5 separate regions of the Homo sapiens genome follow, and all the other regions are reported to be linked to region 4. Evidence: microRNA targets listed by miRTarBase, many of them from high-throughput screens and not tested one by one. Region 4 holds a microRNA gene; each other region holds the end of a gene's coding sequence.

The links. The annotated mature microRNA hsa-miR-2392 reads UAGGAUGGGGGUGAGAGGUG and lies in region 4 at 2,787-2,806, shown strand. An mRNA with a match to its seed (bases 2 to 7 or 8) in the 3' UTR can be bound and repressed. Matches are read on the target gene's strand: a 7mer-m8 pairs with bases 2 to 8, a 7mer-A1 pairs with bases 2 to 7 and ends in A, and an 8mer does both.
Region 1: the mRNA of C6orf132 is a reported target of hsa-miR-2392. Seed matches in the 3' UTR shown: 7mer-m8 at 1,683-1,689.
Region 2: miRTarBase lists TIMM29 as a target of hsa-miR-2392. The part of its 3' UTR that is shown has no 7-base or 8-base seed match.
Region 3: the mRNA of MLF2 is a reported target of hsa-miR-2392. Seed matches in the 3' UTR shown: 8mer at 652-659.
Region 5: miRTarBase lists PDZD11 as a target of hsa-miR-2392. Seed matches in the 3' UTR shown: 7mer-m8 at 2,510-2,516.

What each region holds. Positions count from the first base shown.
Region 1 is chr6:42,101,125-42,104,124 of GRCh38, reverse strand. It overlaps C6orf132 (chromosome 6 open reading frame 132), which reads left to right. Exons shown (of 5, transcript NM_001164446.3): 5 at 247-3,000. The coding sequence ends at 364. Among named protein-coding and RNA genes, the nearest start is that of C6orf132, 40 kb to the left of the region's middle.
Region 2 is chr19:10,929,533-10,935,403 of GRCh38, forward strand. TIMM29 (translocase of inner mitochondrial membrane 29) reads left to right here. Exons shown (of 2, transcript NM_138358.4): 2 at 1-722. The coding sequence ends at 170. Among named protein-coding and RNA genes, the nearest start is that of TIMM29, 3.7 kb to the left of the region's middle.
Region 3 is chr12:6,745,945-6,748,944 of GRCh38, reverse strand. MLF2 (myeloid leukemia factor 2) reads left to right here. Exons shown (of 9, transcript NM_001382226.1): 8 at 1-175; 9 at 398-949. The coding sequence ends at 150. Among named protein-coding and RNA genes, the nearest start is that of MLF2, 5.7 kb to the left of the region's middle.
Region 4 is chr14:100,811,765-100,818,326 of GRCh38, forward strand. It overlaps MIR2392 (microRNA 2392), which reads left to right and starts at 2,727; the gene lies at 2,727-2,810. RefSeq lists an enhancer at 3,397-3,897.
Region 5 is chrX:70,282,657-70,289,218 of GRCh38, reverse strand. PDZD11 (PDZ domain containing 11) reads left to right here. Exons shown (of 7, transcript NM_016484.5): 3 at 706-789; 4 at 1,046-1,102; 5 at 1,389-1,487; 6 at 1,883-1,943; 7 at 2,103-2,624. The coding sequence ends at 2,137. It overlaps RAB41 (RAB41, member RAS oncogene family), which reads right to left. Exons shown (of 8, transcript NM_001363807.1): 3 at 6,364-6,417; 4 at 5,846-5,951; 5 at 5,595-5,706; 6 at 5,176-5,269; 7 at 4,890-4,953; 8 at 4,217-4,631. The coding sequence ends at 4,576. Among named protein-coding and RNA genes, the nearest start is that of RAB41, 3.8 kb to the right of the region's middle.

The sequences.
Region 1 (3,000 bases), not on the chromosome of region 4:
CCAGGAGTGAAAGAGTTCTGAGTGAAAGGCTGTTAGGCATGTTCTCCGGCCAGCAGGGCCCAGACCAGAATGGGAGCCCTGTTTGTGATGTCTGCGGTCCCTCCCTGGGGTCGATAAGCCCAGGGCTTGTCGGGGCAAATACAGAAGTATGAGCAGCATCTTTTCCTCTCGGTCCCTCGGGGAGATGAGAGACGTGTTGGCTAACCAGCTGCAGATATTCACCTCACATCTCTTGCTCTCCCCCAGGTCTCCCTACACCACCACCCGCTATGGAAGCCCCATCAACACGTTCACCGTGAGGCCTGGGACCCGCCATCCCATCTCCTATGTCTGCTCAGGGGCCCATCGGAAAGCCACCTCCTGAGCCAGGGGTTCTCTTAGCTCTACTCCAACAAACTGTGTCTTTAAGGATCTGGGCACTTGTTTCTTGTGGGGGGTGGGAGGTACACAGCAGGTGTTGGGCGACCTGACTCAGACACAGAGGAGTCTTTGATCCCCAAAGACCAACGATGAGAAGCAGTGGCCCAGGAAGACCGAGAGTGGGCTTCTGTTTCCCAAAGCGCTGGTGTGACTGTGGACTGTTTACACGTGGGGGGTGGGAGGGGAAGGAGGGTAGAGAGAAGGAACCATTAAGGACCTGGGCGCTGAGTTTCTGCTCTCTGGTACTATCTGCTTTAGCAAGAGTTATTTAAAACAGTTTTACAAGCACGGCCTACTGAGCAGGTTCTGAAAGCAAGGGGTGGGGCACTGACTGAACTGGAACCCATCGAGATAGCTGTGATTGCCTGTCAGGCCCTTGCAAAGGGCTGAGGCCCAGCTCTGTCTGGTGGGTGTGCAGGGCACCGAAGGGAGATCTTTAGCCTCCATCACCTGCCATCCCAAGCAAGAGTGGACACCTGGGGTTCCTAGCCGCATTGAGGTGGGACCAGGAATGTGTATGTATAACATGTGGAGAAGGACCATGTGTGGGGTGGGGAGTGAAGCTCCCACATGTGGAATGGAAGCCCTTTGCATTGGCCAAGGGCAGAGGTGGGAGATTGATGGTTCATTTTTCCTTGGCCCTAGCCCTTAGCTACAGGGAGGCCTAGAGAGAGGACACTTGGCAAGTTTAGGATGGGAAACAAGGTTAAGCCTGGCTTTGCTATTCAGACCTGTGCAGCCCTGATTTTGGGGACTGGGCCCAAGGAGCCATGAGTCTTAGGCTTGACACTAGGGGCCTTACATGGCCAGGTCTCATATGGGATTTGGAGAAGGCATTTTTCCTAACACTGATACTACAAGTCACCAATACTCTTGATGCCTTAAGATGCTAGAAAGCCTTGGAGAGTGGAGGCAGCAGAGATGGGAATGGAGGTCTGAAGAAGCTTGCTGCTGTTGGGGAATGTGTTTGGGAAAGTCAAGAGTGGTAGGATTGGTTGGCTGGGCGCGGTGGCTCACACCTGTAATCCCAGCACTTTGGGAGGCCGAGGCCGGTGGATCACTTGAGGTCAGAAGTTCGAGACCAGCCTGCCCAAATGGTGAAACCCCATCTCTACTAAAAATACGGAAAAAAAAAAAAAAAGAGTGCTAGGATTGGGCCAGTTAAGAGCAGGGGAGACCTGGCTGGGCATGGTGGCTCACACCTGTAATTCTAGCACTTTGGGAGGCTGAGGCGGGTGGATCATGAGGTCAAGAGATTAAGACCATCCTGGCCTACATGGCGAAACCCTGTCTCTACTAAAAATAAAAAAATGACCTGGGCATGGTGGTGGGCGCCTGTAGTCCCAGCTACTCGGGGCGCTGAGGCAGGAGAATCGCTCGAACCCAGGAGGTGGAGGTTGCAGTGAGCCGAGATTGCACAATTGCACTCCAGCCTGGCGACAGAGCGAGACTCGTCTCAAAAAAAAAAAAAAAAAAAAAAAAAGGAGCAGGGGAGACCTATCAGTAGGGTGACCACGTGTCCTTTGCCTGGGCAGTCCAGGTTTATGCTTGTTTTCCAGTGAATTAGACCCCCTTCCACTTTTCAAAAAAGTCCTGGTTTAGATGCTGTGATCACCAAACATATCAGGAAACAATATTCCTTGGTCTTGCTTCCCTATCTTCAGGTACTGGTGGGCCAAATTCCTGGGACCAGGTCAAGGTGGGCTGCCTCAGTAAGAAGGAAGGACTGGAGAGTGCCCATTTCAGAGGAGCAGGCTGGTGGGGGCCAGCCAGAAAGTAGTTCCCTTTGGGGGGAAGATGTTGGACCTTTATTATTTGTGGTAACCAGCCGAGGCTGGTTGTCAGGACAGCAGGTGAGCCACTTTAGGGAAGAAAGTGCAGGGGTGGGTGGATGCCCAGATTACCAAGGCCAGCCACCCTGATGGGGTAGGGTCTGGTTATCTGTGTTCAAGAAGCAAATCCCACCCCAGCCCCAGCACTAGCTCTCTATGTATGTATTTTCCCTGTACAATGTTTTATAAAAGAGATCATTAATTTATCTGCTATGTTAAGGCTCGAGGGGTGGGGCGTAGACTCTCAGCTGTATATTGCTCTGGGGTGGGCAGGGAAGGCTGAGTCTCACTTGACTTGGAAGATAAACAGGCCAGTTTGGACTGGCCTCCAGCTCCGTGGCTGTGTTTGTCTAACAAGGATTTGGGTAACTACTGGATACAAGCCACTGTGCTTAGTATGGATAGACTGCCATCAGCTCACCCACATGACTCCTGTTCATGGCAAGCTAATAGTCTGTCTGGTGGAAGAGGATTGAAAAAGCACACAAAAACATCATAAATTACAAGGAGTAGTAAGAAGGAAAAAACAGGGAACGTGAGAGAATAACTAGCGAGTGGGGAGAGGAGTGGATTTACTTTAACAGGGTAGTCAGGGAAGGCCTCTTGTGGTGGTGACATACTGATTTAGGCAAAGCGTCCAGCACGTGCCTAGCGCTTAGTAGTTGCTCAGCAAATGGCATCTTTGGGTGATGAATACCTCACATTTGTATATGGCCTGTCACAGTTTTCCATAAAGCTTTTTTTTTTA
Region 2 (5,871 bases), not on the chromosome of region 4:
ATTCCGAGACCAACGAGCGGCTCTTCGATGAGAAGTACAAGCCTGTCGTGCTCACCGACGATCAGGTGGACCAGGCGCTGTGGGAGGAGCAGGTCTTGCAGAAGGAGAAGAAGGACAGGCTCGCCCTGAGCCAGGCCCACTCGCTGGTGCAGGCGGAGGCCCCGAGATGAAACCCTGAGGCCCCCGAGTCCTGGCAAACTGCTTGCCTGGGGTGGTGCAGTTCTGAGTGTGCCTCACCTGCAGAACAGCTGAGACAGATGATGTGCAAAGTGTTTTCTCACTGGATTTGCACAAGTTTGGGGAGCCTTTCTGCCCCCCGTCTTTGTTCTTTATTAGCTGAAGCTAATTCAGAGCCACCTGGGTCCGGGAGTTGGGGACAGCAGAACGACTTGACACATGTTCATCACTGGCAGAGCTGGTCATGAGCCTTTTATATAAGCCTTTTTCATCGGGCCTCAGAGGCCCTCCTTAAGGAGGTACCACATTGGTCAGCTGACTTGCAAACTCTTCTAAGGCCACTTAGATTTTCTTTTTCAAGTTTGGGTTGTGGCCTGGCATGGTGATGTCTGTAATCCCAGCAGTTTGCAAACTGAGGCAAGAGAATCGCTTGAGGCCAGGAGTTTGAGGCCAGCTAGAGTGACATAGCAAGACTCCGATGCTACAAAAAAGAATAATAATAGTAATTAACTAAATAAAATTTGAGCTGAAATGTTTTTATTCTATGACCTATTCTCTCTCGTTTTTTTTTTTTTTTTTTTTGAGACAGGGTCTTGCTCTGTTTTGCCTGCTGGAGTGCAGTGGTGCAATCTCGGCTCACTGCAACCTCTGCCTCCCAGGTTCAAGTGATTCTCCTGCCTCAGCCTCCTCAGTAGCTGGGATTACAGGCCTGTGCCAACATGCCTGGCAAATTGTTGTATTTTTAATAGAGATGGGGTTTCACCATATTGGCCAGGCTGGTCTTGAACTCCTGACCTCAGGTGATCCACCTGCCTCGCATTTCCAAAGTGCTGGGATTATAGGAGTGAACCACCACACCTGGCCTTTCATTTTGATAAGTAACATTTTTGCCATTCCCAGCTCTTTGGAAGGCTGAGGTAGGAGGATTGCTTGAGATCAGGAGTTCAAGACCAGTTTAGGTAAAATAGTGAGAGCTTTCTCAAAAACTAAAATATTTGGAAGGGTAAAGCAGGCAAATCATTTGAGCTTAGGAGTTCAACACCAGCCTGGGCAATATGGCAAAACCCCGTCTCTACAAAAAGTACAAAAATTTACCAAAGGTGTTGAATGAGAATTGAAAATATGTATACATAGAAAAATTAGCCAGACATGTTGGACCATGTCTGTAGTCCCAGCTATTCAGGAAGGCTGAGATGGGAGGATCACCTGAGCCTGGGAGTTCAACGCTGCAGTGAGCCACGATCGTGCCACTGCACTCCATCTTGGACAACAGAGTGAGACTGTCTCAAAAAGTAAAATAAGTGGATGGGCCCGGTGGCTCAAGCCTGTAATCCCAGCACTTTGGGAGGCCGAGGCAGGTGGATCACGACGTCAGGAGATGGAGACCATCCTAGCTAACACGGTGAAACCCCATCTCTACTAAAAATTCAAAAAAATTGGCCGGGCGCGGTGGCTCACGCCTGTAATCCCAGCACTTTGGGAGGCCCAGTCAGGTGGATCACGAGGTCAGGAGATCGAGACCATCCTGGCTAACATGGTGAAACCCCGTCTCTACTAAAAATACAAAAAATTACCGGGGCGTGGTGGCGGGCACCTATAGTCCCAGCTACTCAGGAGGCTGAGGCAGGAGAATGGCATGAACCTGGGAGGCGGAGCTTGCAGTGAGCCGAGATTGCGCCACTGCACTCCAGCCTGGGCGACAGAACAAGACTCCGTCTCAAAAAAAAAAAAAAAAAAAAAATAGCTGGGCGTGGTGGCAGGCATCTGTAGTCCCAGCTACTCAGGAGGCTGAGGCAGGAGAATAGCGTGAACCCGGGAGGTGGAGCTTGCAGCAAGCAGAGATTGCACCACTGCACTCCAGCCTGGGCAACATAGTGAGACTCCAGCTCAAAAAAATAAATAAATAAGTAACATTTTTGTTTTGATTTTTTTAAGTTTTTTTTTGAGACAGAGTTTCGCTCTTGTTGCCCAGGCTGGAGTGCAGTGGCACTCGCCCCAACCACCGCCTCCTGGGTTCAAGCGTTTCTCCTGTCTCAGCCTCCCAAGTAGCTGGGATTACAGGCGCATGCCACCACGCCCGGCTAATTTTTGTATTTTTTAGTAGAGATGAGATTTCATCATGTTGGTCAGGCTGGCCTCAAACTCCTGACCTCAGGTGATCCGCCTGCCTCAGCCTCCCAAAGTGCTGGGATTGCAGACGTGAGCCACCGTGCCCGGCCCTCGTTCCCTATTAAAAATACAAAACCAGGCAATTGACAGTGTCATGACTATTGGGATGTTACAGGGAAGTTTTTTGTAAAACAACCTGTTTACCAGATGAGCATTGTAAGTTACTGGAGGTGGCTTGGAAGGATAAAGCATTTTCTGGTCTGGAAATCTATATGGAATCATAGATTCTGGTTATGTTGTACTTCAGTAACCCTGAAACAGAATTCTATGAAAAGAAGTAAGTTAGTGTACACAGCTGGTACTTAGCTAGGTTATGGTAAATTGTATTTTTGTTGTTGTTGTTGTTGTTGAGACAGAGTCTCACTCTGACACCCAGGCTGGAGTGCAGTGGCACGATTTCGGCTCACTGCAACCTCTGCCTCCCAGGTTCAAGTGATTCTCTTGCCTCAGCCTCCTGGGTAGCTGGGATTACAGGCATATGCCATGATGCCCAGCTAGTTTTTGTATTTTTAGTAGAGATGGGGTTTCACCATGTTGGCCAAGCTGGTCTCAAACTCCTGACCTCAAGTGATCCTCCCACCTCGGCCTCCCAAAGTGCTGGGATTATAGGTGTGAGCCACTGCGCCCGGCCAATATTTTTTTTTTTTTTTTTTTTTTTTTGAGACAGAGTTTCACTCTATTGCCTAGGCTGGAGTACAGTGGCATGATCTCGGCTCACTGCAGCCTCTGCCACCTGGGTTCAAGCGATTCTCCTGCCTCAGCCTCCCAAGTAGCTGGGATTACAGGCATCTGGCACTGCGTCCGGCTAATTGTTGTATTTTTAGTAGAGACGGGATTTCACTATCTTGGCCAGGCTGGTCTTGAACTCTTTGTGATCCACCTGCCTTGGCCTCCCAAAGTGCTGGGATAATAGGCGTGAGCCACCACACCCGGCCTCAATACTTTTTATTTTTTTTAAGTGTAATTTATGGCCGGCGCAGTGGCTCACACCTGTAACTACAACACTTTGGGAGGCCAAGGTGGGAGGATCGCTTGAGTCCAGGAGTTCGAGACCAGCCTAGGCGACATGGTGAAATCCTGTCTCTACAAAATACACAAAATTACAAAATACACAAAAATTAATCGGGTATGGTACACACCTGTACTACCAACTATTCAGGAGGCTGAGGTGGAAGAATTGCTTGAGCTTGGGAGGTTGAGGCTGCAGTGAGCCAAGACTGCATCACTGCACTCCAGCCTAGGTGACAGAGCAAGCCCCGTCTCAAAAAATTAATAAGGCTGGATGCGGTGGCTCACGCATGTGATCCCAGCACTTTGGGAGGCTGAGGTGGGTGGATCACAAGGTCAAGAGCTCAAGACCATCCTGGCCAACATGGTGAAACCCCGTCTAACAAAAATTAGCTGGGCGTGGTGGCGCACGCCTGTAATCCCAGCTACTTGGGAGACTGAGGCAGGAGAATCACTTGAACCCGGGAGGTGGAGGTTGCAGTGAGCCGAGATCACGCCACTGCGTTCCAGTCTGGGCAACAGAGTGAGACTCCGTCACACAAAAAAAAAAAAAGAGAAAAAATAAATAACATAAAACTGAAGTATTAAGGGAGTGATGCTACCTCAGGGGCCTGTGGCAAGTTAATAAAACCAGGTGGTAAAACAACTATCTTTGTTTGTGATACTTGTTTTTGTGTGTTTGCTACTTTCAAATTTTGGCATTTGACCCTTGCATTCATAATCAGTGGGTTGAACAGGTGTTGGTTTAAGTCAGCATCTCACTTTTACAGAGGAAAAGCTGAGGTTCAGAAAATTTATTTTTCCAAGGCTGTGGCAGGACCAAGATTCGAACTGTAACTCCCAGCTCTGTGACTTAATCCTCAAACTTGTGGACTTTGATCCTAATAATTCTTGTCAGAAATAGTTAAATACTGCTATCAGTTGCCATAAATAAAAATTGGATATAGAAATACATATATAAAGCCGGGCGTGGTGGCTCACGCCTGTAATCCCAGCACTTTGGGAGGCCGAGGCGGGCAGATCACAAGGTCAGAAGATCGAGACCATCCTGGCTAACACAGTGAAACCCCGTCTCTACTAAAAATATTTAAAAAATTAGCCGGGCGTGGTGGCAGGTGCCTGTAGTCCCAGCTACTCGGGAGGCTGAGGCAGGAGAATGGCGTGAACCCGGGAGGCGGAGCTTGCAGTGAGCGGAGATCGAGCCACTGCACTCCAGCTTGGGCGACAGAGTGAGACTTGTCTCAGAAAAAAAAAAAACAAAAAAAAAAACCAGACATATATAGGCTGGGTGCAGTGGCTCACGCCTATAATCCCAACACTTTGGGAGGCCGAGGTGGGCAGATCATCTGAGGTTGGGAGTTCGAGACCAGCCTGACCAACATGGAGAAACCCCATCTCTACTAAAAGTACGAAATTAGCCAGGCGTGGTGGCACATGCCTGTAATTCCAGCCACTGAGGAGGCTGAGGCAGGAGAATCGCTTGAACCCGGGAGGTTGTGATGAGCTGAGATCGTGCCATTGCACTCCAGCCTGGGCAACAACAGCAAAACTCCCTCTCAAAAAAAAAAAAAAAGAAAAAAGAAAAAAAGAAATACATATATAAAAAAGAAATGCAATAAAACCAAAAGACACAGCCTGGATAACATAGCAACACCTCGTCTCTACTAAAAATAAAAATAGGCCAGGTGTGGTGGCTCACATCTGTAATCCCAGCACTTTGGGAGGCCAAGACGAGTGGGTCACCTGAAGTTAGGAGTTCAAGACCAGCATGGGCAACATGGTAAAACCCCGTGTCTATTAAAAATACAAAAAATTAACCGGGCATGGTGGCAAGCACCTGTAATCCCAGCTACTCGGGAGTGAGCCGAGATCATGCCATTGCACTCCAGCCTGGGCAACAAGAGCAAAACTCCGTCCCAATAAATAAATAAATAATAATTAAAAAAAAAATAGCCAAGTGAGACGGTGTGTGCCTGTGGTCCCAGCTACTTGTGAGGCTGAGGTGAGAGGATCCCTTGAGCCCAGGAGTTTGAGGCTGCAATGAGCTTGGTCATGCCGCTGCACTCCATCCTGGGCCACAGAGTGAGACACTATCTCCCCTCTAACCCCCAAAAATGAAAGGAAACAAAAGACGTCGAGATGATACTAACTAAATGCTATCTCTACACCATTACCTGCCAAAAATCTCTGTCCCCAAATCTGCCCTCTGTTAGACATTAGCCAACTTCAGGGAAGGGTTTTAAGGTGTCATCAAAGACACTTGTTTCTCATTGATCAGAAGTATTGGAAAGGGTCCACACCATCATTGCTTGAGTCAGTTATTAAATGCCACTTTTGACTTCTCGCCAGGGTGTGTTCCAGGAAGATCATCTGAAGCTGCTGGGAGCTTGAAGCTGAGGGCAGTGGTCGGCGCTGTTGGTAGGAATTGTGGAGCTTGGGCAGCCTGAAGGCTTTGTGTCTTGGCTTTGGGCAGAGGGTCAGCTTTTCCCAGAGGTCTCACTGTACTTCAGCCCATGC
Region 3 (3,000 bases), not on the chromosome of region 4:
ACCTCCCGATTCCGGCAGCAGCGTCCCCTGGAGTTTCGGCGGCTTGAGTCCTCAGGGGCTGGGGGACGAAGGGCGGAGGGGCCTCCCCGCCTGGCCATCCAGGGACCTGAGGACTCCCCTTCCCGACAGTCCCGCCGCTATGACTGGTGAGGGCCCCGGGCCCTCAGCCTCTCTTGTAAGTATCAGGAGTAAGGAGGGTGGGGTGCACCTGCGGACGGTCCTCGGCTGCAAGGCAGGCTCAGTTCAGGCTCCCGCAGGAGCTGCCTTTGGTAGTACAAGTTGACATGGAAAGAGAACAATGTTCTCACTGACATAGGGGATTAAACCCCAACTCCTGGCTCTTAACGTAAGTTTTTTCTTCCTTTTGACTTGTGCTCCTCTCTCTTTCCCCCTCCAGGTACAGGCTGAGAGGCTGAGAAATCATCCCCTGAATAACTTTTTCCTCTCGATTCCCATCCCCAATTTAATATTAAATTAACAGGCAAGCCGGCCCCCACCTCTCCCTGGGGGTCTCAGGGAGAACCTTTCACGGCACCCTTTCCCTACCTTTTCCTTCTTTAATCTCCTGGTTTACCATTGATGACTTCGCCTCTGCATCTACTGACTTGATTTTTCATTCTGCCACTCCATCTTCAAACCCCCTCACCTTTCCCATCCTACTCCTGCCATGCATTGAAGGGTCAATGCATTTTGGGGTGAGCTCTGGGTTTAGGGGCCCCCTCCATCCCTCAGCTACCCTGGATCTTTGCCCACCTCTTCCTCAGAGCCCCCACTGAGGGGCCGTAGCCCTATCTAGGGCTGTGGAAGGAGCAGACTGGTTCCTAACTCTCTCCCTCCTCCTGCCCACACACATCAAAAGAATCTTCCCTACACCCTTCTCTGCCTTTATTTTTTGATTTGTGCAACTTGTAACTAGGTGTTTATGGAATAAAGGAGAATGGAAAAAAGACCAAGTGGGATTCTGGCTGTACTTTTGATCTTTTCCTGTTCAATTCAACCCTGCTGTCTCCTCTGAAGTTACCTTCTCACTTTTCCTCGTCTCCACCTGTAGTCTTCGTACCTCAGAGTTCAAGCCCACATCTCCTTGGTACGGACAGACCATCAGCACTGCCAGGTGCAGGCCGTGAGCACTTGGCTGGGCTAGGCTGGGGCGTGAGAACATGAGCACCTCTCTCGCTGGCTCTTCCCTCACATTCTGCTGTAACTTTGCTCTTCAGGGATGTGTTGGGCATCTCTCATGGGTGCCTGCGGAACTTGCTGCCCCTTGCCCCTTGGACAGAGTTTCTTTCCTGCACTCTGGGTGGAAACACTTCAGATAACCCTACACAGGCCTTCAGAGGGGAGGAACTCTGGTCTGCAGCGTTCCACAAACCCTCCACCCACAGTAGTTGAGAATTTGAGCCCAGGGAAGGAGCCTAGAGAAGAAAACTAACCTGGAACCTGAGCAGGACTGGAAGGGCATGAGGAGCTCAAATTTCTCAAGACGTTTGCTCTTGCTTTGCCCAGCCAAATGGGTCACTCTGTTCCTCTTGGGAACTTACTTAATGATGACAAATGTGTAGGAGAGTCTGATAATGGTTTCCTCTTTATGAAAGTCTTGAGTTCTTTTCAGTTGGTAGGGACACAAAGACACCTAAGGCTCTGGGTCCTCTCAGGGAAGGGAGGATCTTCCCCTGTGTCTCGTGGACGAGTAGATTCAAGAGGATAAGGAGGATTTGTCCAGTGACTCAACAAGCAGAGAGATGAAGTTGAGCTCAACAACCAGGCACTGGTGTCCTAGTCCAGTGCAGTTACTAAATCTCAGTAAGTAGGCTAGGCTGGTGAAGATGCATGACCGGGTCAAGGGAACCCAGTGGTGAAAGAATCCAGGAATCCCAGAAGTCAATCTAGTGTGGATTATTCACCACCACCTGGGCTCTGAACTGTGGATGATGGAACTCAGCAGCCATGGCCCTCATCTTTTTATCTTTTTTTTTTTTGAGATGGAGTATTGCTGTGTCACCCAAGCAGTGGCGTGATCTCAGCTCACTGCAACCTCCGCCTCCCCAGTTCAAGAGATTCTCCTGCCTCAGCCTCCTGAGTAGCTGGGACTACAGGCGCACACCACCACGCCCGGCTAATTTTTGTATTTTTAGTAGAGGCAGGGTTTCACCATGTTGGCCAGGCTGGTCTCGAACTCCTGGACTCAAGTGATCCACCTGCCTTGGCCTCCCAAAGTGCTGGGATTAAGACGTGAGCTGCTACGCCTGGCTTCACAGCCCTCATCTTTAAGTGTAATCTTGCCCTGTCCAGATAAGCACACGACTGTTTCCTCTGAGAAGGGAGTCGTTTTCTTCACTCTCCTGAGAAGGCAGCAAGGTAACCTGGAGTTGAAGGAGCCTCAGTCCTTAGCTCGGCCACTGACAGCCTTGTGGTCTTGGGCAGGTCACTCACCTCCCTGGACCTGAGTTATGTGGGGCCCTTCTAGCCACAAAATATCAGGCCCAGCCTCTCAACCCGGATTTTAGTTCCAGTGCCCACACGCGCATGTGTAGTCTTGAGTGTGACTGCGGCAGAGTAAGGCTGCCCTGACCTCAGTCCAGGTGAGTCAGTCCAGTGTTTCAGGGACTCCCCTGTTCAGGTCCCAGCCTTTAGACATGTGAACTGATTTGTACTCCTGCTCCCTGCTGTAGGGTTTGGACCACCCTTCAGCCCAGCACTTACTCCTGGGGCCTGTGACTAGTTCTCAGCAGGGATATGTTGTGGGAAGTGAGGTGTTAGCATCAGTAGAGTGAGATGCTCAAGAACCAGCCCCCTAGCACGTCCTGACCTGTCTGCCACTGGGGTAAGGGCCACGGGAGAGGAAGAGGAAAGGAACTTTCCCGAGGGACACAGATACTCTACTTCCGGTCAGCTCTCCATCTGGGCCCAGCCTCACACAACAGCCACCCCTCAGCCACCGGCCCAGCGAGTATCCAGAGGACATGGGCAAACGCCTCAGGTTATTTTCTCCACCCCAGA
Region 4 (6,562 bases):
CTCCATCGCCATGAGATACATATTGATTGTTTCCTGGATCAAAAGGTGCAGGGGCTCAAGCTGTGTGTTGTCTGAGGAGGAGAATGAGTTATTCCTGTTCCCCGCCACTGGACAGAACTGTGGATCTTGCTTTTCCAAAGGGGAGAGCAGCAAGGCTGTCAGGAGACAGAAGAGGCTGGGAAGACCCGAGCTCACTGGGCAGAGGACCCCTTGGTTCTGTGGCCCCTGAAGCAACTGTCTCAGTGGGATGAGGTTTTTGGGACAGTGGTGTCTCTCTCGGGGAGAAGTCATAGCTTGAAGAATTCTCCTCCGCCCTTGACTTGCCCTACCTTCCCTGAGCTCTTTGTCATCTTGTTTGTGTCAAAAAGGGTGGATCTTGTCCTCTGTTTGAAGCAAGAAAAGGAAGTATCTGAGTGGTTAGCCCTGAGGGAGCCTTTTCCTTTTGACCTTTGACATTTGATCTGTTGCCAGTGATGGCAGGAGAGAGATGACGCTACAGGACCCGGCATGGCAGGGCCCCGGTGCTGGGCCTACTTGTCCTCTTAATGTCTCCTTCTCAAGCTGGTCACTTCCCTTGGGGCAGTGGAAGGAGGAGAATGACCTGGATGGCCAGATTGGCACTATCTCAGTGCTCCCATACAGAGCTGGGGCAAGTCTCTGGGCCTCTGTAAACCTCTCTTGAGGCATCTGTAAAAGTGGAGGATGGAAGCTCTGTTGGGGAGGATTTGGTAGTAAAAATAAATTTTAAGAGGAGTCCCGAACTAGTAGCACAGGGAACCCTAAAGAGCCCTGCTCTCCACTGGATGGAGAGCTGGCTCTTCCCAGGTCCCAGGAGGCAACACCGACTTTGCTGAGTCCCAAGCCTATCATGGGCTTTCCCACCCAGCCTGGGGCAAGGAGTGGAATACGCTTAGCCCAGGCAATGGATGGAAGCAAACTCCCCCAAGGAAGGTGGTATTAGTCTCCCTGGCCATTCCCAGTTGGAGTTGATTTGTTCCTTTAAGAAGGGGAAGGATTCTCGAGCACTGGAGTTTTCAGGTCCCCTCCCAGTCTTGAAAGTTTGCAAATGACTCTGTTTTGCGGGAGGGCTGAGGCTGAAGTCCTGTCCATCTCTATCCTCTGACTCTGAGGACTGAAGACTGGGCTTTAGGATCTCTGGGTCTTGAGGAGGCTTGGCACCTGCAGAATCCACTCCAAGACTGCCTGAAGCCTCTCGAGCACTTCTTGCCAGCCACATGTACTCTTTGAGCAAATGAAAAGGGGACTTGGGGATGTAAACTTTCAAGACTGGGAGGGGACCTGAAAACTCCAGTGCTCGAGAATCCTTCCCCTTCTTAAAGGAACAAATCAACTCCAACTGGGAATGGCCAGGGAGACTAATACCACCTTCCTTGGGGGAGTTTGCTTCCATCCACTGCCTGGGCTAAGCGTATTCCACTTCTTGCCCCAGGCTGGGTGGGAAAGCCCATGATAGGCTTGGGACTCAGCAAAGTCGGTGTTGCCTCCTGGGACCTGGGAAGAGTCAGCTCTCCATCCAGTGGAGAGCAGGGCTCTTTAGGGTTCCCCGTGCTACTAGTTCGGGACTCCTCTTAAAATTTATTTTTACCACCTATCAGTGATTTCAAGCCAGCGGTGGGCCACGGCCGGTGCACCGGGGCCTGCCAGTCTGCTCTCCTGTGGCTCAGCAGGATTCACTATTGCTGCCCCGTGGCCCCGAGGTCCCATGGTTGGTAGTGCACAGGCACCCTGTGGCCCTCACTGTGGGGTTGATGTTGATGATCTTTGTGCTGTGATTTGCGGTGTCCCACCATGATTCCTGTGGCAGTGGGTCTGGAATGGCATGCTCCCCCTGGGTGTTTGATGAAGAGTTTGAATGGAAGCTGCCACAAGACTTTCTCCCGAGTTAGGGAAACTGAGAGGCTGCAAGACCCAGCTCCTCTGCGGAGAGTCACCTCGAACTGTGATTTCTGCATTGAGCCGTGTACACCAGAGAGCGGCTAGGATACGGTGATGCCCCTAACCTGGGACAAGTGTGTGTGTGTGTTTTGGGGGGGGCTTATGAGCCTTCTCACAACTGAAGGGAGAATGCTAACTTTCCAATCGGGAGGTTGTGCGCAGATGACACCCCAGCTTCCTTTGGGGTTCTCTGTTATCCGTGTGGCCAAGAACTCAGTTCAACATCCTGAACTTTCCAGTGTCCCTGCCCTCCCAGCAGGCAAAGGGGATGGAAGGATTGTGAATCCAGTTCAGCAGGGTGATGCCTCCTGGCGCAGATGCCAGGCCTGCTTCTTGCTGGGTAGATCTGTGCCTCAGTTTCCTCATCTGTAAAGCGGGCATGGTCAAGGACCTACCTCTTGGGTGAAGATTAAATGAGCTATTAATAAGGATAAAAAGCTCTTCAAACCCTGCCTGGCACATACTAAGTGCATGCTAAATGCTGTACTCAGTTTGCAGACTGATAACGCTGTGCCGGATGTCCTTGTCGCTCTGTGTCTCTTTGCGCTGTGCAAGTATTTCTGCAGGGACAATTTCTAGGAGTGAATGTCTGGGCTGAGACTCGTGTGCATTGAAATGCTGGGTACATATTGCCAGAATGCCAACCGAGAAGTCACACCTAGTTAGACTGCAGACATAGTGTAAAGTTGATGAGAGAAGCTTCGTGGGATGGGGTGGCCTTCTAATGGTATCTTAAGGAACTAACAGTAGTCCCGCAGGAATATTTTGATATGGTCCCTCCCAATCCAGCCATTCCTCAGACCAGGTGGCTCCCGAGCCACCCCAGGCTGTAGGATGGGGGTGAGAGGTGCTAGATAGTCACAAAACTGAACTAGCCTGAGCGGGGTGAGGGCCTAAAGCAAACACAGCCTCAGCACACGGTCATGCTGGGGGGATTTGAATCTTGGTGTAGAGTGGCAGAGATGGGGAGTTTCCACTTTATTTAAAGGGAACGTGAGTTCAAGTGTGAAAATCTTGACCTAAGGGAACACAGCTCGGCTTCTGTGCTCTGTTCAGCATAAACTTTTACTTGGGGGCTTGCTGGCCAGGCTGATCTCAGATCTCTGGCCCAGGGATCCCTGACCCAGCCTGCCAGGAATGTGGGCTGTGGGGATGAGGCCATCTCGACTTGGCACAAAGGGCTCCTAGAAGTCATTCAAACCCCGTTTCTGCCGTGCATTGCCTTCCCCTGGATTTGGGACCTAGGTACGGCATAGACTTCACTATGCAAATGAGTGATGATTTCCGCCGAGTGCCCAACCCCCTTCCCCAGAGGTCTAAGCTGTAAAGCAGAGGGTGGCCCAGGAGGTGCCCCAGAAGGGTTGTAGGCTAAGCTGCTTCCTTCCTACCTTCTGGTCAAACGCATACCCTCCCATGGTTCTTGTGCCTTCAGGCTCCCAATTCACAGAATACACAAGGACTTGGGATGAAGCCGGAGTGACCGTGGGCTGCCCTGCGTCTCCCAGGTTTCTGGAGCTGTGTGGCTAGGGGCTCCTTGGAGCCAAAATAGTTTCTCATTGGGGTGTCTGACCCATAGGCCTAGGACCCCCATTTCTCCTGGCCCAATCACTCACCAGGGAGGACATGGCACACGCAGAGTCAGCATGGCTGCCAGGTTCCAGGCCCTTGTTACATCTTTGCCTTGTTCATTTGGGGTTGCTTATTTCAAGCCTTTCCCTCCAGGAAGTACTACCTTATGTTCTAAACAAGCCCCATGATGCTACATGTATAATTTGAGATGCTATGATTGGGATGTGGGAGATGGAGCTAGCGCCTGCCTTCTTACCCCTTCCAGGTCCACATTTCTGTGGCCCTGGGATGGGCAGGAGGGAGCCTTCCCATTCCAGGTGGACGTGCTCTTCCCCTTTGGTCAGGATGGCAGGCCTGCGGAAACCCCTGCCAGAGAAGCGGTTACCGAAACGGGAGTTGGAGAGGTCTCACCAGGGAGCGCTGGAGACCTTAGCCCGTTCACCTTCTCCCCTCATCTTCCTCCCTCTACCTCCTGCCCCTACACTCACCCTAGCCTCCTGCCCAGCCTGGTGGGAGAGGTCAGCTTATATAAGGTCCCCTGGCCACTTCCTGACCTCCTCAGGGGGGATCTTCAGCCTAGGTCCACTCAGATTTCTCCAAATTAGGGCCCCGGTATGGGCTGTGGAAACCAGCCCTAAGTCTGGGCCTGAGTCATGCCTGCTGTTCAGGGCTTACGGGAGGGCCCTTTGTGTAACTCCAAAGCAGGGGACCGGGATTGCACACTCAAGCCTTTCAGGAACAGCTGAGGCTGGGCAACCAGACAGTTTTGCTTGGATCTCTGGGGTGGCCACGTGGCCATACATTCAATGCTCTGAGATGCCTGTGCCCTAAGCTAGGCAGGAAGTGACTTACAGCTGAAAACAGGATTTGAATGACTTCTGCTCCGGGGAGGCCCCTCAGTATAAACAGTGAGAATTTCTGGGAAATGTACATAAGGCCAGACTCTCGGGAGGGGATATGGGCCCAGATTCCTGATGCTCCCACCGAAGTGAGAGGTGCCAGCTCTTCCTGGGCATCCCAAACCTCCACGGGCTCTCTCTTGTGGTTAAATGACAGCGTCTTACTTCTCATTTCATCTTCCCAGGGAGAGCGTTCACTCACTCTCAGGGCCTGGGCTGAGCAAGCTAGCCATCTAACATCTAAGCAGAGGCATGCAGAGTGCAGCCTGAACACAGTAGGTGTGCAGCTCAGCTCCCTTGTTGGCTCTGAGCTCAGTGAGGCAGGGAGCTTGACCCATCACTTGTCATTTTATCCCTAGCCATTGGCATGTAAAATAATGCCAGCCCTAGGCACCCAGGAAGTACTTCCTGAATGGAATGAATGAATGGATAAGTAAGACAATCTGGAATTGTCTTTTAAAGTTGCCAGAACTCAGGCTAAAGGTGCAAATGCTCTGCTGGTGTATTTTGAAGCAGCCTCTTCTGAGTGTGCCTGGCCTGGCCTCCCTGCCTATGTTCCCTGTGCTCCCTACTCCAGAGTTCCACCTCCCCAGCCCTGGACCTTGACCCTCAACATCCCTATTTAGTTGGGTAACGTGTGAGGCTTTTAGAAAATAGTCTGTCGCCAGGAGTGGTGGCTCATGCCTGTAACCTCAGCACTTTGGGAGGTTGAGGTAGGAGGATCTCTTGAATCTGAGAGTTCCAGACCAGCCTGGGCAACATAGAGAGACTCTGTCTCTTAAAAAACAAACGAACAAACAAAAAAACTTGATGTAGTGGGAAGCGCCTGTAGTCCCAGCTACTTGGGGTGCCGAGGCAGGAAGATTGCTTGAGCCCAGGAGTTTGAGGCTGCAATGAACCATGATTGCACCACTGTACTCCAGCCTGGGCAACAAAGTGAGATCTCGTCCCAAAAAAAGATAAATAAAAAGAAAATAGTCTGTTTTAGTCTGTATTCAGAGCAAGCCTGTGGCATGAATATCAACTTTCCTGTTTTTGCAGGGGGGAAACCGAGGCCTGGCAGGGCGAAGTGGGCAGGACCCTTCTCAAAGGGCCAGGGTGCTAGTGGCCACTGTCCTTCCCCCACCACCTCCACGCCCCCATCCCCCCACAGTTCACGACTGCAAAGGCAGCTTTAGGTTGGGAGCTGGTGGAGCAAAAAGGCCGTTCAAAGGCAGCCTTCGTTTGCTTTTCCTTATCATCACATGTGCAAGGGCAGCTCCGTTTACCTAGAGGCAGGCGTCTTTGAGCTCATCCTTTCCGCAAACACCTAAAGGGTATGTTGAACATTTGAGCCCCTGTCTCAGAGGGCGCAGCGTTTGCACAACATAAGCCCTGGCGGCTCGGTAGACGGGTATGGGGGGTAGACTCAGGTTTCTGGATGAAGCACTGAGAGCCAAGGTGACCTGCGGTGTTCCGGGATGACCTTTGGTGACCTTCGGTCCTGTCCAGTGACCTGGGGTGGTGAAGTTACCCCAAATGGGAGGAAATGAACTCTGGGTGGGCGAAGGCTGCAGGACGTGTTGGCATGATGGCTGTAGAAAGTGCACACCAGGGCTGGTGTGGAGGGCGCCTCGGCTGCTCTGAGAATCTTCCACTACCCCGGCCTGGGATTCCCAGGAAAGGCTGGTGGTGGAGGCCAGAGAGGCTCACAGCCCTTGTCAGCCAGGCCTGGAGCCGTTCCTGCAAACAGGAGCCCGATGTAAAGGTTCTGAGCTCTGCATTCTTGTGGAGTGGGTGGCACTGTGAGGCCTGCTCTCCTTGGGGCAGCGGGGGCTCTCTGCAGGAGGAGGGAGGATGCCATTTGGGTTACTGAGCACCTACTGTCTCATTTAACCTTCTCAACACCCGGGGGTGGGGGGGTGGGGGTAGGTACTATTATCCCTATTTTACAGGTGGAGAAATTGAGGAGAGGTGAAAGGATCCCAGCCAAAGTCAAGTGGTGGTATCAGAATTCAAGCCAGGCTGTCTGAGTTGGGAGCCTGTGTTCTCACCCACCTTGCCTCATGGCCTCCTCACTGCCAAATGTCCCATGCCAGGCTGCAGAGTCCCCACCCCAACCAGGAACAAGAGAGCCACAGGAAAGACGGCAGGGGCAG
Region 5 (6,562 bases), not on the chromosome of region 4:
TTCCCCGTGGGCATGAGATGATGCATGAAAGGTAGGATAGCAGGGTTAGAAGGCGAAACGGAGAGTGAATCTTAGCACTTGTAGCCAGAGGACCCAGAAGCTGGATTCTGAGCAACAGGACCCATTGGGAACTTCTTTATGGAAGCCTCCTGCTAGGGTCTGTTCACACCGGTTAATTCTGGAAATTTGGAGCCTTCATTTCCATACTGTTAAGAGGTTCAGCGCGGTGGCTCATGCCTGTAATCCCAGCACTTTGGGAGGCCGAAACAGGCGGATCACCTGAGGTTGGGAGTTCGAGACCAGCCTGACCAACATGGAGAAACCGCGTCTCTACTAAAAATACAAAATTAGCCGGGCGTGGTGGCACATGCCTGTAATCCCAGCTACTAGGGAGGCTGAGGCGGGAGAATTGCTTGAACCTGGGAGGCAGAGGTTGCGGTGAGCTGAGATTGAGCCATTGCACTCCAGCCTGGGCAACAAGAGCAAAACTCCATCTCAAAAAAAAAAAAAAAAGGTGAAGAAATGGGGAGCTACTGGGCTGCCCCAGTGCTATCCATCTACTCATTTAGTCTGTGTTATCTGTTCTACTTAAATTAAGTCTATGACCTTTCCTTTTCCTGACTTCAGGGTAATTCATTAGTGTTTCAGATGAAGGTAGGTGTGAAGTAAGACTGGTAAAATTTCTGGGGTTGCTGTGTCTTGCAGAGGGTACACCACCCGGACTACAACAATGAGTTGACCCAGTTTCTGCCCCGAACCATCACACTGAAGAAGCCTCCTGGAGCTCAGGTGAACTTATGAAACCTTATTTCAGGCTAGATTCATCCATACCACAAATTGGCAGTGTTGGGGGGATGGATTGGAAAGCAGGTGCAGATGTGAGGAAACTTTCCTTCTTGTGGACAGAAAAGCTGAGATAACACTTCTGCAACTTCTGACTTTCCTCTCAGGGACACACAAGCTGAGCTATTGTACGATGATGCTACTAGTTGTTCTTGTGTTTGTGGTCTCCATTGAGCCCCCATTCTGTGCTCTTGTCTTACAGTTGGGATTTAACATCCGAGGAGGAAAGGCCTCCCAGCTAGGCATCTTCATCTCCAAGGTATTTATGCCCAGTAGGCAATATGGATCGTTACTTCCCTTTGTTAAATTAACAGATTGCAGAACCCTAATGTCCCAAGGGCTGAGAGGATGACTCTGGATTCATAGAAGGGGTATAATGGAGACACCCCCTTTCCCACTTAAAACTTTTCATTTGGCAGGCCATCTGTCTGCATACATTGTCACAGAAAAACAATAGCACCATACATTTGAATAGCACCGAATTTCACTGACAGTCTTCTGAAATTATCGCATCCCAATCACATGTATTCTCTCTTTACCAACAGGTGATTCCTGACTCTGATGCACATAGAGCAGGACTGCAGGAAGGGGACCAAGTTCTAGCTGTGAATGATGTGGATTTCCAAGATATTGAGCACAGCAAGGTGAGCACAGTACTTGGGCTGTGGTGCTGCAAGAAGCCATCTCAAATAGGACAGATTGGACAGGAGTAGCCTAATCTGTAACTTAATAAGAAAGCATTTTGCTGGGCACTGTGGTACACGCCTGTAATCCCAGCTACTTAGGAGGCTGAGGCGGGAGGATCACTTGAGCCCAGGAATTTAAGACCAGCCCAGGCAACGCAGCAAGACCCTGTCTCAAAACAAACAAACAAACAAACAAAAAGAGAGAGAGAAAGTAAGCACCTCTCCTGGGAAAGTACAGGAGGGAAGCAGCTATTAGTGACACACAGGTTGGAGTGGCAAATCCCTTTCCCCCTATTATGATTCTGTCTTGGGTCATATCTCTTCATTTGTACAAGCTGCTGTGTTCCTTCCAGGCTGTTGAGATCCTGAAGACAGCTCGTGAAATCAGCATGCGTGTGCGCTTCTTTCCCTACAGTAAGTGCCACTTTCTTTTTTCACTTTCCTGACAGGGCCCTAAGTAAGAACTCTTTAAATACTGATGACTAGAGGCCCTACAAGTTGGGGATAGGGAATCAGGAGCTCAAGCGTGAAGATAACCTGCTCTGTTCCTCCTTTTCTTCTTCTTTCCTTCAGATTATCATCGCCAAAAAGAGAGGACTGTGCACTAGAAAGTTGCAGCCCACAGCCCTTCATGTGGACTCTGTCATGACATGCTAACTAGACTTCAGGGGAGCCACTTCTGTTTTCAGCCCCTCCCTGGAATAGTGAGTTGGGAGGATGGGGAGACAGCTAACCAACTGCATTACCCAAACCATATTGCACTTTTAGTTCCCTAGTTTTCTAGGTGAGCTTCATTCCCTGAAAGGAGGATGATGATATCTAGGCATAACCTAGCCTGTGAGGAACCTAGTTAGGAAAGACAACTGACATTTATTGAATATCATGCACTAGTCCCTTACATATGTCATATTTTAATTATAGAAATCAGTAGCAAAAAGAATCTTGGGGATTTTCCATCTGACTTCCCTGGCCATCTTATCCCATCCTTGCACTACCAGAAGATTCATACACTTTTGAGACTCCAGTGAGACGCTGTTTTCACCCCTTCCTCCTCCTAGCCTCTCTCCCAAAAAGTAAAACACAATGCTGAAGAAATATTGGTGTGACTTTTGAATGTTACCGATTGGATGTAAAATGCTATCGAGGGAAGAAAAAGCTCTTCCAAAGAGAGGAGCCACTGGAAGGAACAGAGCAATACTATACCTTCCTCGCAACTACCTGTGATGTCTGACCAGAACATTAGCAAGGCCAAGGAACTTTAACCACAGTATAACTAAGAAATGGCATAGAGTGAGGGGCACTGAAAGAAACTGCCCGTTCCCCTAGGAGCTTTGAGCATTTCTCTGCAGGGGACAGTAGTAATATAATTCTCTCTTCTCCTTTCCCACATTCTTTGATCTGGAACATAAACTAAGGAAGGGGCTTAGATGCATTTCTTTTCTGAGGCAGCAGTAAGAAATTGGTTCACAGTTTCCAACTTGTAAGTTGAGTAGTGCTAACTGCTGACTTCTCCCTTTTCTTCACCCCAGCCCCAAATAACATTCTGCCATGTTCCTAGATCTTTAGTTACCAATCCACCATTACAAGATTCCTAGTCATGCCTATGCCATCGCCACTGGCATGTTTAAAATACCCATTTGGAATTGAAAGTTTTCTAGTGTGAGGCTGGGCGCGGTGGCTCATGCCTGTAATCTCACCACTTTGGGAGGCCAAGGCAGATGGATAGCTTGAGGCCAGGAGTTCGAGAGCAGCCTGGCCAAAAAGGTGCAACCCCATCTCTACTAAAAATACAAAAATGAGACAGGTGTGGTGGGACACTACCTGTAGTCCCAGCTACTCGGGAGGCTGAGGCAGGAGGATCATTTGAACCCTGGAGGTGGAGGTTGCAGTAAGCCAAGATGGCGCCGCTGCACTCCAGGCTGGGTGACAGAGTGAGACTGTCTCAAAGAAAAAAAAGAGTTTTCTAGTGTGGTGTGGGGTGATGTACCCCTATGATGAAGTCCCAAAATTTGCCTTGAAAGAATCCTGGGGAGCTTAAATATGTATTTATAGGCCCTTCTACTGGACAATGATTCTGTTAGTCTGAGGTGGAATCTGGAAATCTGGATTTTTAAAGAAGCAAAGGAAATAAGTAAATAAGTCTTCAAATGTAGGAAACATTGTTCTAAATAGTAGTACTATACTGTATGAGGAAGGTCTGGTTCTTCCTATATATCCCACCCTAGCTCTACTGACATACCTCTTCTAGAGCCTCACTGCTATTGTTAGGTGGCAACATCCCTTGAGAGCAGAGCTGGAGGTAGAATTAATGTAGCTGTCCCTATGCTTCCTGGGAAATCCTGTTCTATCCTCCTATTTGCTGACCCCATGCCCCGCATTGGCCACGAAAGAAAGAAAATAGTAGCTTGGTTACTTCCATAAAGGCATGTTGGGTGACTTGGCTGAATGTTGAGGTCCAAGACTCTTCCTGTGGTTAACAGGTCTTAAAACATTGTATCTAAGAAGTATGAAAAACATGGTAAAAAGTCCCAGCCAGGTGCCATGGGCCTAAGAGGCAAAAACCCTCCTGCCTTAAATTGGTTCTTGTTTGAAATACTTGGATTGGTTCTATGTTAGGGCACCAACATGAGATAATTGCATTGTGGAAATATAGGTATAGTGTGGAGAAAGCACAAGCAATAACAGCCTTAGGTTAAAGAACCATTTATTGAGGGTGTAGGTAAACAACAACAAACAGTGGAGAATGAATTGTATTGGCCTTTGAAGTATGTCAGCTGCTGTAGAACTGTATTCTCTACAGATGTCTTTTAGCTGTCGGAGAAGGTAAGGTAGAATTCCCAGGTGCTGCAAGAAGCTTCCACCCAGTAGCTGTGAGATGCGGTCAGGAAAAAATGATAGCACTTTCAGGGGTTCTGTTTTTACCCCAAGCCTAGGAATTGGAAGAGAGTAAGTGGCCATGTATCATAAAACGAGGTGGGGAGGAGAACTGGTATGGCAAGCCCAAATGTAAGAAATCCATCAAATGAGGCAGAGAAAGCCTAAGCTGTCAACAATAGCTTCTGTTGCCTGACTCCTCGAAGGATTCCAGTTCGATTTCAACCGCTGAAGTGTGTGTCAAGGAAGCTAATACAGTGAGGTGACTGGAGTCAAATCTTAACACCCAAGGTCAGCTTCTAGGAGATGTAGAAGAGGAATTCTGATCTTACAATCCCTCTCACCTAAAGGCAAACGAAGGAACTACTTTGGGCTAAAGTTAGTCCCATTTTCCCCTTAGGTACCACTCAGGCATCAACTCAGCAAGGAAACTTACCTTCTCTACTTGTATACTCCCTACCCCAGCAAAGCTAGGAAAAAGGATACTCCCCTCTTTTGGTGGAGGTGAAGTCCTTGTGGAAAGAAGGGCAGAAGCCACACGCCGGAACAGCTGTGTGTGTGTGTGAATGGGGACCAAAAAAAAAAAAAGGGGAAAAAAAAAAGGTCAGGTTCAGAGGCTAGGATAATTCAGGGCCTTTGAGATACATGATGGGGAGATGAACCTTGACCCCTATCCCACAAAAGATAAGCCAAGCTTATCCAAAAGAGTAAACAGTAGTAGTAGCTACAGACAGAGCACAATTAAAGTATCATAGAAAGAAACAAGTATTACCTTTTTCACGTTGTAACCGGTTTTGGCACTGGTCTCAATAAACATCACATTGAGGTTTCTGGATTTTTCTTCACCCTGTTCTGCAGTGACTTGTCTGGACGAATCAGAAATGATGAAAAGGGCCAGAGTTATTGGATATGGATAGACTCTTCTGAGGTGTAATGATGCTTACCTAGGGCCAGGAACCCTAGAAGCCTTAAACCCATGACCCTTCTGACTACAGGGTGGGGACTCTCTCCTATACCCCCAACATATCCTTGTGCCCTGATGGGACGCCCCCCTGTCCTTCCCATCCTGCAGTGCTGGTAGGGGGCAGAGGGGACTAAGGTAACTCCTCCCCAAGTAAATAGAGGACAGTTGACCCTCCCCATAGAGACTGAATTTTAGGTATGCCAGAAGAAGTTGTAGTTATACTTTACCTTTTGTTATCCAAATCAATCTTGTTACCCAACAACATGATGACAACATCGTCACCTCTTTCTGCTCGCACGTGTTCTACCCACTTATCTGTCTCCTTAAAAGAATTGATGTCTGCAAGAGAATATGTTCCAGAGCGTTGAAACATTTAGGAGAGATTTGGAGAGAACACTTCCTCTCTGCTAATTTTGTCAATCTCCCTATCAATCCCTTTATAATCCCCTTTTCAAATAAAACATTGCATAACACCCACTTGTAATGTCATAGACAACCACTGCAATAGTTGAATCACGAATGTAGCTAGGAATTAGGCTGTGAAAGCGCTCCTGGCCAGCTGTGTCCCATAGCTGCAGCTGAACCTGCATAAAAATGTTTAGGAAGAAGATGGGGGAAAGGTAGACAAGAAACTAGCCTTTTTAAAAAGCTCAAACCTAATAAAGGCAGAATACAAAAGGTCAGGTAGACTGGATCCCTGAGAAGTGGCTGCTATAGCCTCAGACCAAATGGCCTATAGTCCTAGGACAGGTCCAACCAATTTCAATATACTGTTTTGATTCAGGAAGACCCTACAGCACAGCAGATTTAAGGATTCAAGGTCTCTTGGACTTTATGTTACAGTTGGAGATTAGATGAAGGCAGACAGAACAAGAAACATCATAGGGCTTGGTAATTTGAAGAGGCTTCAGTTTTTTTTGATGGTGCTACCCAACTGTGATGAATAGGCCTAAGGGGTTGAAGTGTAGGGTTAGTGGTATGAGAGTTAACACTCACTATTTGGTCCTCCAAGTACATGGTCTTAGACAAGAAGTCAATTCCAACAGTTGCCTGCAAAAGAAAATCAGATACACTCCAGCATTCCCTCTATTCCCAATATGAGGCAGTCTTAGAACCCAAAGTGGAGAATGACCCTTCAAGAAGTTGTCCTGGCTCCACTTCCCAATGCTTACAATACATAACTTTGAGGAGGAGA